Regions from separate parts of the Homo sapiens genome. Here region 1 is linked to region 2. The links come from fine-mapping of genetic effects on gene expression. A gene starts in region 2. The other region holds a variant in brackets. All regions are shown on one strand. Distances are from middle to middle. Region 1 overlaps HNRNPAB (heterogeneous nuclear ribonucleoprotein A/B). Region 2 holds the start of RGS14 (regulator of G protein signaling 14).

Region 1 (8,096 bases), 850 kb before region 2:
AGAACTCAGCCTGAAGCCAGCAACTAGAGCCTCCTAGCATGGAACAGGGAGGGGACAAGAGTCCAAGAGCAGAGGCACATGTCCTCTGGACAGGGCAGGGAGCAAGAGAGGGTCTTTCATGGCCCAATCTGCTCCTATTCCTGCCTGTACCTAAGAGAGCTTCCTGGGCTGTCAGGAGGTGGAAGGTGAGCCACCACCCAGCCTGCCTGAGCAGGCATCAGATGTATGCAGGACAAAGCAGTACTGGGCCTGAGAAACAGGCCATAAGAACTACAGTGGGAGTTGAGACCCCATTACCGCCAGCCTAGGATGTAGAGATGGCAGGAGTTTCATTCTGTACATGAGACAGGTCACACAAGGCTGCTGGGTGGCTGAAAGATTGGTACCACTGAGGACTGACGGAACTCAAAATGAAAACTCTACCCCACATTCCCCATCACCTAGGATGGTCGTGGTCAACCCAGGGTTCCCCCTAAATCCACTTACAAGGAAATCTCATGGCTGTGTTGCCATTTACAGCTCAGTGAGACCCTAAATAGGCACAGTTGCATCTCACAGTAGAGATCACAACTGCCAGCCAAGCAACCTGTGCCCTCCTACCTCTGGGTGATCACTGCTACCCACAGGTATGCTTAATCCCAGGGCTCTGGAGCTGGGGGAGGCCCATCCCTGCTAGACACAAATTGGAAGTGGTAGGGATATGATGAATAGGAGTGTGTTTGTGGAGAGCAAAGGCTGGCCACAGAACAGGCTTAGGGATCCTGGACAGAGCCTACAAATCTCAGGAGAACTGAGGGCTGGCTTTGTTTTTCAGGAAACTGCTGCCACCCCTTTGGGGAATGGGACATGGGTGTGGATAGCCAGAGGGCCCAATCTCTAAACTGTCCTCCAGTTTGGACACTGAAGTCAACAGGGCATCTTCAGCAGAGAAAGGTGACTGAGTCGGCATTGCTTTGTGGTCTTTTTCAGACATGGAAGAGAAGGTGAGAAGTTGTGAAACGCTGAGGCTCCAGCCCTAAGCCAGCCCTGCTCTGCCTAAGTGTACTCCAGGTGAGTGGGCCTTGCTTCTTACTCTTGAAGATGCACAGCGGGTTCCTTACCATCAGCAGCAAGCAGCCTCGGCAAGCTGAGCCTTTTTTTAAGACTTTTTTTTGTTCTGACTGATGCTCCTTCCCAAAGGTTAGTTTCTTCAACACTGGAAATTCTCCAATGCTTAGCTTGCACTTGATGGCAGGAACAGCTATATCCTCCCTTGAAACCTATGGGGCTGTATCCACGTGGAACCCCAACCCACCCTTGCCTCTTGTAACCACCTAGTCTTATGCCCTAAATACCAGACCTGGAGTTGGGCTCCAATCCAGCCAATAAACATCCCCTGCCAGAGCAGGCTTTTCTTCACCAGCCAGGAGGAGCACTATTGTGCCCCAATTCAGACGGCCCTGGCACTGCCCTAGTGTGTAAAGAATCCCATTTTTTCATTCATCAGCCAAGAAGGTTGGTGTTCCAAGGTGTCCCAGGAGGGGACATGCCTGCTGGGGATGTAAGCCCTCATCACTGCCCCATCCTCACTCCCCATAGGCCTCTCATTCCTTTCTTTGAAGGGGGGCTCAGCCCTAGGCAGGGCAGTCCTTAAAGGATACCCCCACAACTGGGCCTGCAGCTGGAAGAGCCTGCTGCAGGAGAAAGCCCCAAGTCCAGGGCACCTGGCACCCCCCCCCCGCCTCCCTCGACCCTGAGCAAGAGGTCTCACACAGCATATCCCACACTCACCCAGGCTTGGGGGTTTTTAAATTTTATTTCAAAAGCTTGGATAGCTTCAATATCCAGGTTGTGGCAAAATCAGGACACGTGTAAAATACCTTACAATACATTAGATTCCCAAAAGGTACCAAAAAGTACAGTAAAATTAACACTTCCGTTACAGGAAATGTATGACGCAAATAATATAAAATTAAAAGGTGAAAAAAAGGTGACACTGGTTTCCTAAGATACAATTTACTCTTTACAACCAGGGTCCACAGGTCCAGGCTGCAGAGCGGCAGCAGGAAGCAGAGCCTCCCACCTGCTTCTGGGGGACCTGGTAATAAAAATCAGCCCATGATGGCGCTATGGCCTCTCAGACACCACACGCTGCCTAAACACCTAGAGCTCTGGAAATAGTCAACAGGAGAGTGATTTCCATGGGGGAAATTTTAAATAAGATGCACATGGGACAGGCAATAGAAAGTTTGCCAAGTTAAATTTGGTACATAATTGTGTTCACTCCATATCCAAACAAAGCATGTGTGCGATCAGTTGGTCGCTCCTGCTGCCGCCTCAGTATGGCTTGTAGTTATTCTGATGGCCACCACGTCGCTGGCTCTTGCCGTAGTTTGTACTACCCTGACCTAGGGACGAGAACAACCATAGCAGCTACTATTTACAAGCATTTGCCCTGTGCCACGCGCTTGATATGCATCTTCCCAGGACCCTCACCAGCCGTGACAGCAGAGACTGCCTTCCTCATGTTATTAAGACCCCGAAGTCTAAGGCTCAAAATCAAGTAGCTCCCATGGCTGAGCCAGGCCTGTCTGACTCCAAAGCCCCTGCTGCCAGTGGCTCCTACACTGTCCTGCCTCCCCTGGGGACGAGGGGTGAGCGGATGGGGCCTCCCTCTCTCCTACTTACTGTAGTCGTAGCCGGGGCCGTAGCCGTAATAGCCATAGGGCGAGTAGTCGTAGCCGCCATAGCCAGGCCCGTAGCCCTGCTGGTAGCCGTAGCCCTGGTTCCAGTAGTTGCCGTAGCCCTGATTCCAACTCTGACTCTGACCTGTGGGGGGAGCAGGGCACAGGGGCCCGTGGACCATTTAGCATACGCAGGAGCTAGGATGGAGGAAATCCTGCCCTTTGGGGTGGCAGGGTTACTGTGGCAACTCAGGCAGAAGCCAAGGGGCTGCTGTTCTGGTGTATAAGGGCCCTGGGCCCAACCCTGCATCTGAGAGACCCAAGCAGAGGATCAGAGACCAGGATGCTAACTTTACTTGGGGCAAACAAGGCAGCTCACTCACTCAGTCACTCTCTGATCACTCCCACTCTCCTTGGCAGCTTAGCCTTTAAAAAGATGCAGTTCAGGCTTTGGAGTCAGAGGGGCCTGGGATGGAAGGGGATAAATGCCTGGCACAGCTCTGCCCTACCCACCCTTCTGCCTACCTGCTCACAGGTGTACCAGACTCAGGACATCCACAAAGCCAAGACACCCATCACATCCCCTCCCCCAGAGTGTAACACAAATGCTCTCTCTGCCCTGGGCACCCAAGCCATTCCAAGGGGCAGCAGCAGGCAACAGCCTCAAGCATACAGCCCTGACCCAGAGCCGTTCCTATTCCTGTTCGTCCCCAACCTCACACAATCTGCCCACCCCTGCTGCACAGCACCAGAGGGAGCCCCAAGACAGGCTTGGAAGGCTCCATGTAGGCAGGGAAACAG[G/T]ACCTATCTTCATCCACGTTCCACTCACCTCCACCTCCACCACCACCTCCGCTGCCTCGGTTCCCTCGGTTGCGGTTTCCACGGCCCCCAGAGCCATACTGCTGCTGCTGATAGACTTCTTTGGGCTGGGCCACCTTGATCTCACACTAAAAGTCAAGAGGACAGTGGTCAGGCCAGTAGGACAAACTCAGGGCAGTGACTGCCCAAACACCTTCACTGCGACAAACATCAAATGGTGGATCAGGTCCATTTGCTGAGAAACAAAATATGCTAGTATGGGAGGCCACCTTTGGGCTAAAGCTCATGGAATCCCAACTAAAACCAAAGGCCTTCCAGCAGAGAACCCTTCCGACAGAATGCACTTGAGATGGGCATCTCAGCCCCAGAGCAACTCCGTATCTAATGGAGGCAGGCAACTGGGCCAACTGCAGCCCAGGGGAGCAGAGGACAGGCTGGGACCAGGCACCACACCTTGGTCCTGCTGGGCTAGAGGGTCAGACAAGACTTCTCAGATGAGGGGCCTTAGACAATGAGGTTTTAACATCTTTTTCTCTTTACAGAAGAAACTCATCTCATCCAAATACACGCTATTGAGAAGGCGAGCCTGACCTCCCTCTTACAGATAAAGTCAGCTTTCAGAGGCTCAGGGTGGGGGGGCCTGCCCGAGGCCATAATGCTACCCACCCCCTCCTCCTAACCACTGGTCTGTTGGAATAACCCAGATGTCTGCATCCCCTCAAGTCAGTCAATTTCCTTTCTGTCCACTGGGGGTGGAATGGGGTAGGGTGGGATACTTTAAAGTGCTCCTGCTTAAATAAATTAGACCAGACCAGTGTATTTCTAAAGAAAATCCTGACATGCACACCCATTAAAAATAGTACATTTTACAGTGTCCCAGTCATACTTTTAATTGGCAAATTAAAATAATGCAATCTGATATATTCTATCCTACTAAATTAAAAATACTGAATATAACCAACTAAATATACTTACTCCTAAGACTCACTACCAGTAGTTTCACTTAAACTCTGCCTTAGAGGCTCTTCCCACCCATTTCCCATTATGGCACATAGAGAAAAAGGCCTCTATCACTGTCCACTGGAGTAATAACCACTGCTTCCCCTAACTGCCTCAAAGACTGTCATTTTATAGAAAATTTAAGACTATCCTAATCCACTCTTTCCAAACTCCCAGCCAGGATAGAGACTTCCAGGAGTTCCACCTGTCCCACCTTATCTGGCTGCCAACTCCTGCTCAGAAACAGAACCTGCCACACCCTGCCACTGCAGGCCGCACCCTCAACTCCCAACTGCCAACTTGAAGCCTGAACTACCCTTTCCCTGACCAGAGTTCAGGAGGGGAAGAGCTACACCTCCCTGCACATGAATCCACTCATTTGAAAGCACAACTGACCCTGGATTTAAGCTGGCCAGGACCCTGGGAGATCTTTGGAAGGATTTTTGCCTGGGTTTAGGGTTAACTTAAAGAGGTGCCCAGAAGACCAAGTGAGGCAGTTCATGCCTGTAATCCCAACACTTTACAAGGCCAAGGCAGAGGATGGCTTGAGCCCAGGCAACATGGTGAGACCAGGCTTTAAAAAAACATATGAGCCAGGCATGGTGGTACATGCCTGTGGTCCCAGCTACTCGAGAGGCTGAGATGGGAGGATCCGGTCCGCCCATGAGGTCAAGGTTGCAGTGAGCCATGATTGTGTTACCGCACCCCAGCCTGGACAACAAAGCAAGACTCTGTCTCAAAGCAAAAAAAAAAAAAAAAAAAAAAAAGTGCTCAAAGTGGATGGAAGTGGACAAAGACTTGGTTGTAGAAGGAGGTAGAAAGGCTCTGGAATAAGAAAAACTTCACCACAGAGGAGAATCAGTGAGTTGCAGAAGTTCTAGGATCTTCTGAGACCTTAAACTGCAGGCTTCATACCCCTGGACTCAAGAATCTAGAACTGTCACCTCTAGCTTTAAGTGAGGAGCTAAAGAGGCTACTCAACCTGCTCTATTCACAGAGGCCACCTTCTCCTACCTCCCTCACATCCTGTGTTGTTTATTGGCAGTCCTCCCAGCCTGAGAAGTCTTTCAAGGATTGGAACACTGCCCCAATCAGGGCAGCATACGCTTCAGAGAAATAGTAAAGTCTGACCAACCTGGAGAGCTCCTGCATGAGGCCCAACCCCTAACCCATCCCTCTAAGGGCCAGCTCTCCAGCAGCACAGGAGGCCAAGCAGAGCTGGGAACACCTTACCTTGCTTCCACTGACAGTATGGAACTTTTTCTCCAGAACCTTCTTCACGGGTTCTTCTTCTTTAAAGGTGATAAACACAAAACCTCGTCTTTTGTTCAACTTTGGATCCATTGGCAATTCAATGGCCTCAATCTGCAAAAAGCATAGGCAAACTCAGGCCCAATACCTCCCTACCCCAGAGCATATAGGGGACTCACAGGAGAAAAGACCCCATTGAAGACAGAGGGTGAAAAATAAGCCCTGCCTGGGAGGGTCTAGCCAGCCAAGGATACCAAGGACCAGAAAGAAGGCAGCCTTAGGGGCAGCTGATGGGCTATTCCCAGAGCCACACTCACCTCCCCAAACTCGCCAAAGTACTCCCTGATCTTTTCCTCAGTGGCTTCAGGATTCAGACCCCCAACGAAGATTTTCTTCACCGGGTCCTTCTTCATAGCCATGGCCTTTTTAGGGTCAATGACACGGCCATCCAGCCTGTGCTCCTTCTGGTCTAGGACCTGTTCCAACAGAAAGGGGTCAGGCTGACTCAGCAGCACGAGCCAGACAAGGCCCTTCTCTCTAAGCCATAAAGACACCAGTACAGATACAAACATGTGTTTCACCCCCTCCAAATTCTACCCCAGCTTAACCTCCCAACCCAATTTTCATCAAACCTCAAGTACAGCTGGTTTACCTCGACACCTAGAAAACAGTCCTCACACTTAAGCCTTTGATCATGCTCTTCCTGCCCAAGCAGTCCCAGCGTGAGGCCCATCTCCAGAAGCGAAGCAGCAGGGACTCGGAGCATAGGCTGAAGATGGGCCACAGGGGAAGGAATCCTCCCTCCACTCCCTACTAGCTGTGACCTCTTCTACTTACATTTCTGAGCCTTAGGGTTTTGGTTTTTGTCCTGTAAAATGGGGCTAAAAGCCTATCATACCAATCATGGACTCTCTTGTAATCCTCCCAGATGTTTAGCGCCGTACCCAGAATAGGCACATAAAAGGTAATGAATGTCAACTGTCATCTTCCCGAACCACTCCAGCACATTCTCTCACTCCCAGCTTAATCTGTATTTTCATCCCCTCAAAAACCGGAACATAACCTCCGGCTTTGGGTTTTGCCCAAAGCACTTAAATCACATGCAGACCACACAAACTAGTCATGCTTTAAGAAAGGTGTCCTCTTAGAATTCAAATCGTTTCCACTGAGACTGCTGAAATCCAGTACCCAGCTTACCTTCTCCACACTGGCTGCATCTTTGAACAGGATAAACCCAAACCCTCTTGACCGTCCAGTGTTGGGATCCATTTTTATTGTACAGTCAACGACCTCTCCAAATTTAGTAAAATAGTCTTTTAAATCTTTTTTGCTAGTATCCCAGCTCAGGCCACCAACGAACATTTTTCTGAAATGGTAGGGTGAGACACACGGCAACAAGTCTTGTAAGCAAGCTGTGATTTTGGAAAGGACTGGCCCTGGCAAAGTTCTCACGAAGTCTACAGCTACCCTTAGAGTCTGCAAGGAGCACCTTAGAAAGATGTTAAATCTCCACTACCCTCCAAATTGAACTCAACCAGGACCCTAACGAGGCTTAACAAGGCTCTGCAGCCCCAGCCTGTGAGAAGCAAAGAAGGGACCACCTCACCAGGGGTATGGGACCTAACCACTCATAACTGGAAATTCATGTGTTCTACAACCATGTAGCAAAGGGCCAGCGTCTCCACCAACTCCTGAGAACTCGTTTCAAGGAACTCGATGTTTCCGGGGACCAAGCCCGCCCAGGGTTCAGACCGTGACTCCGCCCCCGGGAGAGGCGGAGGAGGGAGGTCCGGGCCCCGGCTCGCGCCAACTCCGCCCACGCAGCCGCCGGCGCGGCCCAAGACGCCGCCGGGCCCCGGGTCCGAGCGCTTTCCCTCTTCCGGGCCATCCGCCCGCCCCTGCGCCGGCTCCGGCCCTGGCCCTGGCCCTGGCAGCGCGCGAGCGGCCCCGGGGCGGCGCCAAAGTCGACCCAACAAACTCCCGCAAACTCCAGCGCGAGTGGCAGCGCCAGGCCCGGCCCGCGAACGCAGCGGCGACAGTCCGCGGGCCGCACCAGCCCCGACCCGGGCCAGGCCGCCGCCCCTCCCCCCGCCGCGTGGCGCCAACAAAAGGCGGCCCCGGAACAAAGGCGGCGCCCCCGTCCGCCCGCGGCCGCACCTACCCCGCGTCCTCCTCGTTCTTGCTGGCGTTGATCTGGTCGCCCTCGGCGCCGTTCTGATTCCCGCTCGGGGGCGCCGCGGTCGCGCCTCCAGCCCCCGCCGCGGCGCCCGTGCCAGCCCCGGCCGGCGACTCGCCTTCGGGGACGGCCTCATGTCCGTTCTCGGTGGCGCCCGTCGTCTCCATGGGCTGCTCCTCGCCCGCTTC
Region 2 (8,096 bases):
GGTTACGGCTAAAACCCTACCTGGGCCTGACTAATGAACCCCCTTCAGCCTCACCCATTTTCCTCCCCCTCACCTCCACCCTACACTTCACCGAACTTTTCTATTTTCCCCACACCCCTGCTTCCGGCTTTGCCATTGCCAGTGCCTGGGTATCTGCTCCTGCTCTTCGCTTGGAATTGCTCCCCGATCTCTGCCCGTTGACATTAGTCGTCCCCAAACACCAGGCCCCTTGAATGCCCCTTCCCACCACGTGCTTATCCACCCATGTCCCGGCCTCTCTCCCTGCCAGTCTGGTCACCCCTGGAGTGCTGGCCTGGTTGGTGGGAGGGGTCAGATCTGAACTCCCTCCTCAAGAAGCACCGTCTTTGCCTCGTGCTCCCAAGCAGCCATCAGGACCCTGGCCTTGGCACCCCTTCACTAGGGACTCTCAGCCCCTGAATGCCACCTGTAGCTCTCCATCCTGAGCCTCTCTTGCCCTGACAGTTGTTGATAGCATAGCTGGAGCTGAAATTGAGTAGGGACAGAAATCTGGAGATGGGTGGGAGTGGGGGTGGAATCCAATTCCAGCTCTGCTATTCGGGAACAAGTAACTTCTCTGAGCTTCAGTTTTCCCTGGGTAGCATGGGGCTCAGCACTCCCAATTTCCTGAGGCTGCTGTGAAGCTTGAATGAGGCCCCATGAGTGAAAGCACCAGGCATGCCACAATCAGAGCAGCACCCCACAGCGGAGTGAGGTGCAGGTGTGCAGGGGCCCTGCAGGGGCTCTGGCCTGCCCTGGCTGCCACTGCAGGGCCTGGGGAAGTTGTGTTGAGCAGGGCTGGCCTCCCCTGCTTCAGCCTGCTTGAGAAGAAGTGGTGAGTGAATGGAGAAAAAGGGGAAGAAAGGGCAAGGAAGGGTGTGGTGGCCAGTGACACACGGACCCAGGCTTGGACCTCGGCCGGTCATATTTTTTTCTTAGGAATTTGGTCCTGGGGGAGCTGCTGGCACCTGAAAATGCTAAGGTGAGAGTAAGGCCCCAATTTCCTGAGCTTTGACTGTGTGGCAGGCACCCTCTGGCAGCACACATTCATGTCCTCCCTCCATCTTTACGGGTATCTTGTGTGGCAGGTATTATTACCCCCATTTTACAGATGAGGAAACTGAGGCCCAAAGAAGCCATGCAGCTGAGATGTGGCAGAACTGAGATTAGAACTCAAGTTTGCCTGATTCTGGAGCCTGAGGCCTCCCCACCCTCTACCCAAGCTGACTCCCTTTGTGGACCAAGGAAGCTTGGAGGCCCAGGGCCTCAGCCCTTGGGGCACAGGTGGGCAAGTCTAATCTGGCATGACCTGCTCAGGGGCTCCTCTTGAACTGTGCCCTCTAGAGGGATCAGACCTTGAAGGAGGGCCAATTTTCTGAGCATCTTCTATGCTGGGCACCCTCTACCATCCTCTTGAGGATTTCATCCTAGCTTGAGGGGCTGCAAGACCCTGTCTGGAGATGTCCACACAGAATCTGGGTGTCTGGTCCCTTCAACTTGAACCAGCCTGTGGAGATGACCCCTGGCCTTGCCCCTGTATAAGGCCACCCTGAACTCGAGTGCCCTGAGCTGGACGCGAGGGACAAAGAGAGAGCTGCATGGGCTTTGCCTTGCAGGTCTTCCTGCCAGGAGGGGAAGACTAACTAGGCCCTCTGACAGGACAGGACAGGCTAACTGCCCCTCCAGGCTTAACTCTCAGCCTCCCCTAGGGCCCTGTCCCTGTGTTTGCCCACAGCCAGGCCTATGCCGTGCCCTCCCTCCTCCAGCTTGCAGACCCTTTAGGGACCGTCTCCTACAACACGGTGCATGGAGCTAGTGGAGAGTCTTGCTCTGTCGCCAGGCTGGAGTGCAGTAGCACGAACTCGGCTCACTGCAACCTCTGCCTCCCAGGTTCAAGCAATTCTCCTGCCTTAGCCTCCCAAGTAGCTGGGACTACAGGCACATACCACCACGCCCAGCTAATTTTTTGTATCTTTAGTAGAGAAGGGGTTTCACCATATTGGCCAGGATGGTCTCGATCTCTTGGCCTCATGATCTGCCCGCCTCGGCCTCCTAAAGTGCTGGGATTAGAGGCGTGAGCAACTGTGCCTGCCTCCTCTCTCCCTCCTTCCCTCCCTCCCTCCCTTCCTTCCATCTTTTTTTTTTTTTTTTTTTTTTTTAATATAGGATCTTGCTCTTTCACCCAGACTGCAGTGCAGTCTGAGTGTGATCACAGCTCACTGCAGCCTTTACCTCCTGGGGTCAAACGATCCTCCCACCTCAGTTTCCCAGTAGCTGGGACTACAGGTGCATACCACCATGCCCAGCTAATTAAAAAGAAGATGGGTCCTCACTATGTTGCCCAGGCTGGTCTCAAACTCCTGGGCTCAAGCGATCCTCCTGCATTGGCCTTCCAAAGTGCTGGGATTCCAGGCTTGAGCCACTGCCTGGTATTTTCACCTGTGTCTTTTGTGCCTTGCCAGACTAGGGGGCAGGGACTAGGGCTGATGGGCCTGGGTCGGGAGTGTCTAGGATAGGGGCAGTGGCAGCACCAAGCAGGCACTAAGGAGGGGTTGTTGAATGAATGAGTGAATAAGTACATGAACAAATGAAAAGGTAAAGAGGCTGTGTGAAGACATCCCTAGGAAGGGGGCTGGGAGATGTCTCCAAGTGACAGGTTTCCTTGCAACTGCCTGACAAGCTGAATGGCAGAGAGGCAAGGCTGACAACTGAAGCTTCCACAGCAGGGAATGATGGTGGTGAGAGGAGAGGTAGGGGAGGACTGGGGCCAGGCAGTTCTGGGGGTTCAGATGCTGACGCTCTACTCTCTGGCTGACCTCGGCACAGCATTTACTTCTCTGAGCCTCCCTTGGGAGGTAACTCATGGAGGGACCAGACATACCTGTCCCCCAGGCGCCCCTCCATCCACATCCGCACCTCAGATCCCAGTGCCTGTCTGGCCCTCCCTGCCCTAGCTGTGCAGGGCCACGGGAAGCTACTCAGTGACCAGCAGGCAGCCAATCTGTGACCCTCGGGATTCTAAGAGGTGGCACAGAGAGTTTGGAACAGGCCCAGGAAGGGCAAAGATAAACCTGTGTGTGACAGTTCTGAGAGGAGCCGGGGCGTCTGTGGGCTTGATGGAACTGGGGGCAGACCTTGGGGCACCCTCCCTGCTCTAGGTGACTTTTGAGTAGAGAAGTCACAGGCTGACACAGAAGGGGCAGGGGCTGGGTCTGTCTCTGGGCCCCCTCTGCTGCCCTGTAGTTCTAGGCACTGTCCCAGAAGCATCAATCCAGTTGCCCTCCCAGGGTGGGCCTGGGGTTAGCCTCCTTGGCTTCCTGGCCCGGTCGCCTAGGCAAGGACGAGCGAAGTGTCATGCCTGTGACATGGGAATGCAAGGGAGGTGGGTTTTCTTTTTGCACTTTCGTTGTGGGGTCGGTACTGCAGACAGTGAGATGGGGGGCTGAGCTGGCTTTGAAGGGTGGCCTCTCTCCCAGCCGGCCAGCCCGGGGCTGGGCAGGAAAGAGATGCTGGAAGAAGAAGAGGTAGAGGCAGGTTTTGGGAACTAAGGGGCAGGAGTGGTGATGGGGCTGCCTCAGCTTCTTGGTGAGGCAGGAGATCTTTGAATTGGGGCTGAAAATGTAGGGGGCACTGGGCTGACAATTATGCAGCCCCCACAATGGGTCAAAGGCCTCATATGCATTATTTCACTCTATCATCTCAACAAGCCTTGAAATTCATTCCAACCTCCTCATTTTAGGGATGAGGAAACTGAGAGCTGGCGAGGACCCTCCCTCCAGTAAGAGAGAATAGAACCAGGACTGGAACCCAGGTCTCTATAGAGCCACTGGCTTTGGCCCGTGATACTAGGCTGGGGCCTGGTGGTGGGCCAGGACACTGGCCTTCCTGAGGTTGTTAAGAGGGACTCTTCCAAGTGAGGGGGGAACCCTAGGGAGAGAAGGGAGGCCCAGCACAGCTTGCCCCATCTGCTGAATGAATGAGAAGAGCCAGATCCTCTGAGGGCAGCTCTGATCTGGGGCTAAGCAGCCAGGGAGAGGGTTAAGGGGTGGGGCAGCTGCAGCCAGGGGGATCTTAGTGCTCAGCCCTTCCTGGAAGCTCAGGAATAGAACAGGCAGAAGCTGCATCAACCTAGTCTGACCCTGCTGCCCCATCCCGGGCTGCCCAAACAATGCTAGTTCTGGCAGGAAGCCTCTGGAGTAGCTCCGGCTGGAGGACACCGACCCAGCAAGAGCTGCCACTAACATGACCTTGGGCACCTGGAGCAGGGGGTGAGGAGGGGAGGACTCAGGCTGAGCGGGATGTAGGGGCTTGAGCCACTGTGGGGATGGGCAGGGGGCAAGGAGCACATCGAGTGTCCCTGAGACCCTGGGATGCAGCCCCAGATGCAGCAGGTGAGGGAGTGGTGGGGGCTGGACCAGAAGCCTGTGCCCGCTCTGGCCTCACTGCCAGGGTTGTACCAGGCTCCCGGCTGGGCCATCTGGAAGGGTCTAGGGGTGAGAGCACCAGGTCCTACCACCTGCTGCTGTCTGTACCCAACTTCTCTCGCCTGCTGGCAGCCCGTGGGCTCTTGCCTGGCCCTGCCGGGTGTGCCTCCTGGGCTCCACCCTGGGTGTGCCCACCCCCTCCTCGTGGCCCTGGCCCGGAGCCCACACTCACCATGCGCCCGTTGGGGACGCCCAGGTGCTTGGGCTTCCCTGGCATGCCGCTGCCGATCAGGGGTCCCCGCCGCGGGGGCTGCCCACCATGGGGACTGTGGGCAGCGCCGGCCAGAGCTTGCACGGTGGCGGGCAGGCAGTGGAGAGAGCCTGACTCGGCTCCTGCGGGCCCTCACATCCTGAAACACCGCTCACTACCTCTTTTCTCTGCCACAGGAAGTGTCTCTATAGAAACCAAACCACAGAAAGAAGCAAGGTCTAAGAGAGCGAACGCCTCTTCCTACACACACACGCGCACACACACACACGTTCACGCACACACACGCCACCAACACACTCCTGGCAGCATCCCGCACGGGCACCAACACAAGGCAGAGGCTTCCGTGTGCCCAGCAAGGAGCCCAGCCTGGTCTGGCCAGGACCAGGGAGCTCTAAGTTCATGCCTGGGCTCACAGCACACGAGTAAACATACCTAGGCACCTTTGTCCACCCTGGGGGCGTTCCTGTGGACATGCACACACGTGCACTGGGACCTGTGTATCCACACGTGTACTTTACTCGGCACACACTTACCTCATACCTACTGTGTGCCAGACAAACATGTGCTCAGTACCCCTCTCCCCGGCAGCTGCACATATGCAGGGTACCTCTAGCCCCAGACACCTACAGGCTCCTTCCATGCATGTGGCCAGGTGTGCAGACAGATGGATAACTTGCCCGCATGGCTGTGCACACACAGACATTCAGGTATGCGTGTCATAAACACATGGGCTCTCCCTTACAAGGGGGACTTGGGTGTATAGTCATGTGCATGCACAGTCCCCTGAAGAGGTGCATGTGACAGGCACACCTGAACATAGGACATATGTATTCCGACACTCCAGTGACATATGTGTAAGCAGATATGATGCACACGCTCACCTACCTAGGTAGGGGACTGGATCACCTATATCTGTGGCCAAAGACTTGAGCGCATTCATACTCACTCAGAAATCCTGCCTTAGTCAACTCAGGCTGCTATAGCAAAAATACCATAGACCAGGTGGGTTAAACAACAAATAAGTATTTCTCACACTTCTGGAGGCTGAGATGTCCAAGGGCAAGCCGCTGGCACATCTGGTATCTAGAGAGGGCCCTCTTCCTGGTTTGCAGACAGCTGTCTTTTTGCCATGCCCTCACGATAGCAAGTGGAGATAAAGGAAGCCAGCTCCCTCCTGTCTCTTTTTATAAGGGCACTAATTCCTAATCCCACCCTAAGGGGTTCTCTTTCATGACCCAATTACCTCTCAAAGGCCCTGTCTCCAAATAACACCTTGCAGGTTAGTGTTTCAACGTATGAATTTTGGGGGATATAAACTTAATTTGATAGCATGTAGTGTTGGCTGAAGGGTGGGCATCCTGCCCTCGGCCCTGACCTGGCCCCAGATGAACTCCAGTTTTAAAAATTTTAGCTAGGGTCCTTGGTTTGCCTCTTTCTCACACATGCGTGTCCCCACTGCAAGGACTTATATTTTCTTCTAAGCGTGGGCTCACTAAGACCCCTCAACTTGCCCACCATTCTGATTTGAGCTCCTCTTTCTCTCTTTTTCTTTCTTTTCTTTTCTTTACTTTTTTTTTTTTTTTTTTGAGACAGAGTCCTGCTCTGTTACTCACCCAGGCTGGAGTGTAGTGGCAGGATCTAGGCTCACTGCAGCCCTGACCTCCTGGGCTCAAGCAATCCTCCCACCTCAGCCTTCCAAGTAGCTGGGACCACAGGTGCATGTCAACGTGACTGTGTAATTTTTTTTTTTGTAGAGATGTCTCCTATGTTGCCCAGACTGGTCTCAAACTCCTGGGCTCAAGCAATCCACCCACCTTAGCCTCCCAAAGTGCTGGGATTACAAGTGTGAGCCATCGTGTCCAGCCTCAGCTAGTCTTTCTGCAGGGACAAGGTGATAGCCACTTCTCCATATTCTACCCTCTGCCCCACTGCCCCTTCTAGGGCTGTGACCTGAACTCTTCAGTGGCAGAAACTGAATAGCTCTTCACCACAAATTCATGTCCTTTTTTCCTGGGCACGTGGCTAACTTTACTTTCCCAGGTTCCCTTGCAGTCAGATGTGGACATGTGACCACTTCTTGCCAATTGAAAATGTGTGGGATGACATGTGTCATTTTTGAGCCAAGGCTTTGAAGAAGTAAGTGTGTGCCCTGCACCCTCCCTCTTTCTCCTTCAGCTGGATGGATAGAGAAGATGAGGAGGCCCAGGGGATTGTGGAACCACAAGAAGGAAAAAGCAGGGTCTGTGTATCAGTGCCTGAAGGCAAGCCACCCATCAACCTGGAAACCAGCTTCAGACCATTATGTAAGTGGGAAGTAAAATTTTTTGAGCCTCCTGACAGATGCACAAACCTTGTAAAAATAGTTAAAAAAAAAAGAAACATCAAAAAAATTTTCAGGTCATTATATACATTAGGGCCTATTTGTTATAGCAGCTAGCACTGCCCTAGTTAACACACTTCTTCTCCCAGCACTGCCTCACCTCTCTCCAGACACCTTGCTTCAGGCCACACAGACAGAGAGATTCAGTCAGACTTGATGTGTGAAAGGGGTTACGGTGGAGGTTGCTTTTGGGCCTGGACCATTGCCAATGGTGGTCTTAATAAGGTGTGTGACTGTTTCAATGTGCCTGTGGGGGTTGTAGGGTGTGTGATATGGGTGAAGACTTCCTGTCTGCTGTGCCATGGATCTGGGCCATTTCCTAGGTGGCTTTACAGTCCTAGTCCTCACAACCACTTTGTGAATGGTGCTTATTATTACCATTTCACAGATCAGGAAACTGAGGCTCAGAGAGAAGTGAGTTGCCCAAGGCTATACATCCTCTTAGAGATCTGCTAAGCTGTGAGTGTGCTTGGGGTGCCTGGAACTGGGCTTTGGCCACCACAGATGCCCACAGCTCATCTTCTTCCTGCCAAAGGACAGTCACAGTCTCTGCCTGGGACTCCCTTTGAAGTTCATACTCTCCTGCAGAGACACCTCTTCCCTTCTCTCCACCATGGATGCCAGTTCTAGCTCTGACCACATCTTCACCACAGCTAGCCCTGGCTGTTCCCATCTCTTAGCCCTTATCTAGTCTTCTCCATGCCATGAGAGTGGTGGAGTACCTCCACCCACAAAGCACCATCCTCGACTTCTCCCTTCCTGGCTGCCCACAGGGCATCAGTTCCTGATTTAGTCTCTGGCTGGGACTTCAGATCCTTCTTCTCTGTGAAGACCTCCTTGGCTTAGGCCTCACCCTCTCTCCCCCGATCATGATGAATCCAGTCTCCCTATTATCCCCGCTCCAATCTCTTCTCCTCACCATAGCTAGAGGAATCCACATTGGTCACTCCCATGCTTAGAAATATCCCATTGAGTTCTGGGAAAAGGCCATGTTCCTTACTTG

Evidence for each region.
Region 1: its variant is fine-mapped to the expression of RGS14 in minor salivary gland (GTEx, PIP above 0.99).

Annotation. Positions count from the first base shown.
Region 1 is chr5:178,204,844-178,212,939 of GRCh38, reverse strand. It overlaps HNRNPAB (heterogeneous nuclear ribonucleoprotein A/B), which reads right to left. Exons shown (of 8, transcript NM_031266.3): 2 at 7,894-8,096; 3 at 6,930-7,098; 4 at 6,050-6,208; 5 at 5,715-5,846; 6 at 3,493-3,610; 7 at 2,668-2,808; 8 at 1,777-2,387. The coding sequence ends at 2,317. PHYKPL (5-phosphohydroxy-L-lysine phospho-lyase) reads left to right here. Exons shown (of 13, transcript NM_153373.4): 12 at 970-1,050; 13 at 4,025-4,469. The coding sequence ends at 1,019. Among named protein-coding and RNA genes, the nearest start is that of HNRNPAB, 4.4 kb to the right of the region's middle. RefSeq lists silencers at 7,434-7,843, 7,874-7,983, 8,004-8,096. The variant G/T (reference allele first, on the strand shown) is at 3,465.
Region 2 is chr5:177,354,648-177,362,743 of GRCh38, reverse strand. It overlaps RGS14 (regulator of G protein signaling 14), which reads right to left and starts at 4,820. Exons shown (of 15, transcript NM_006480.5): 1 at 4,675-4,820. The coding sequence starts at 4,719. RefSeq lists enhancers at 695-844, 4,268-4,768, 4,897-4,946 and a silencer at 4,567-4,796.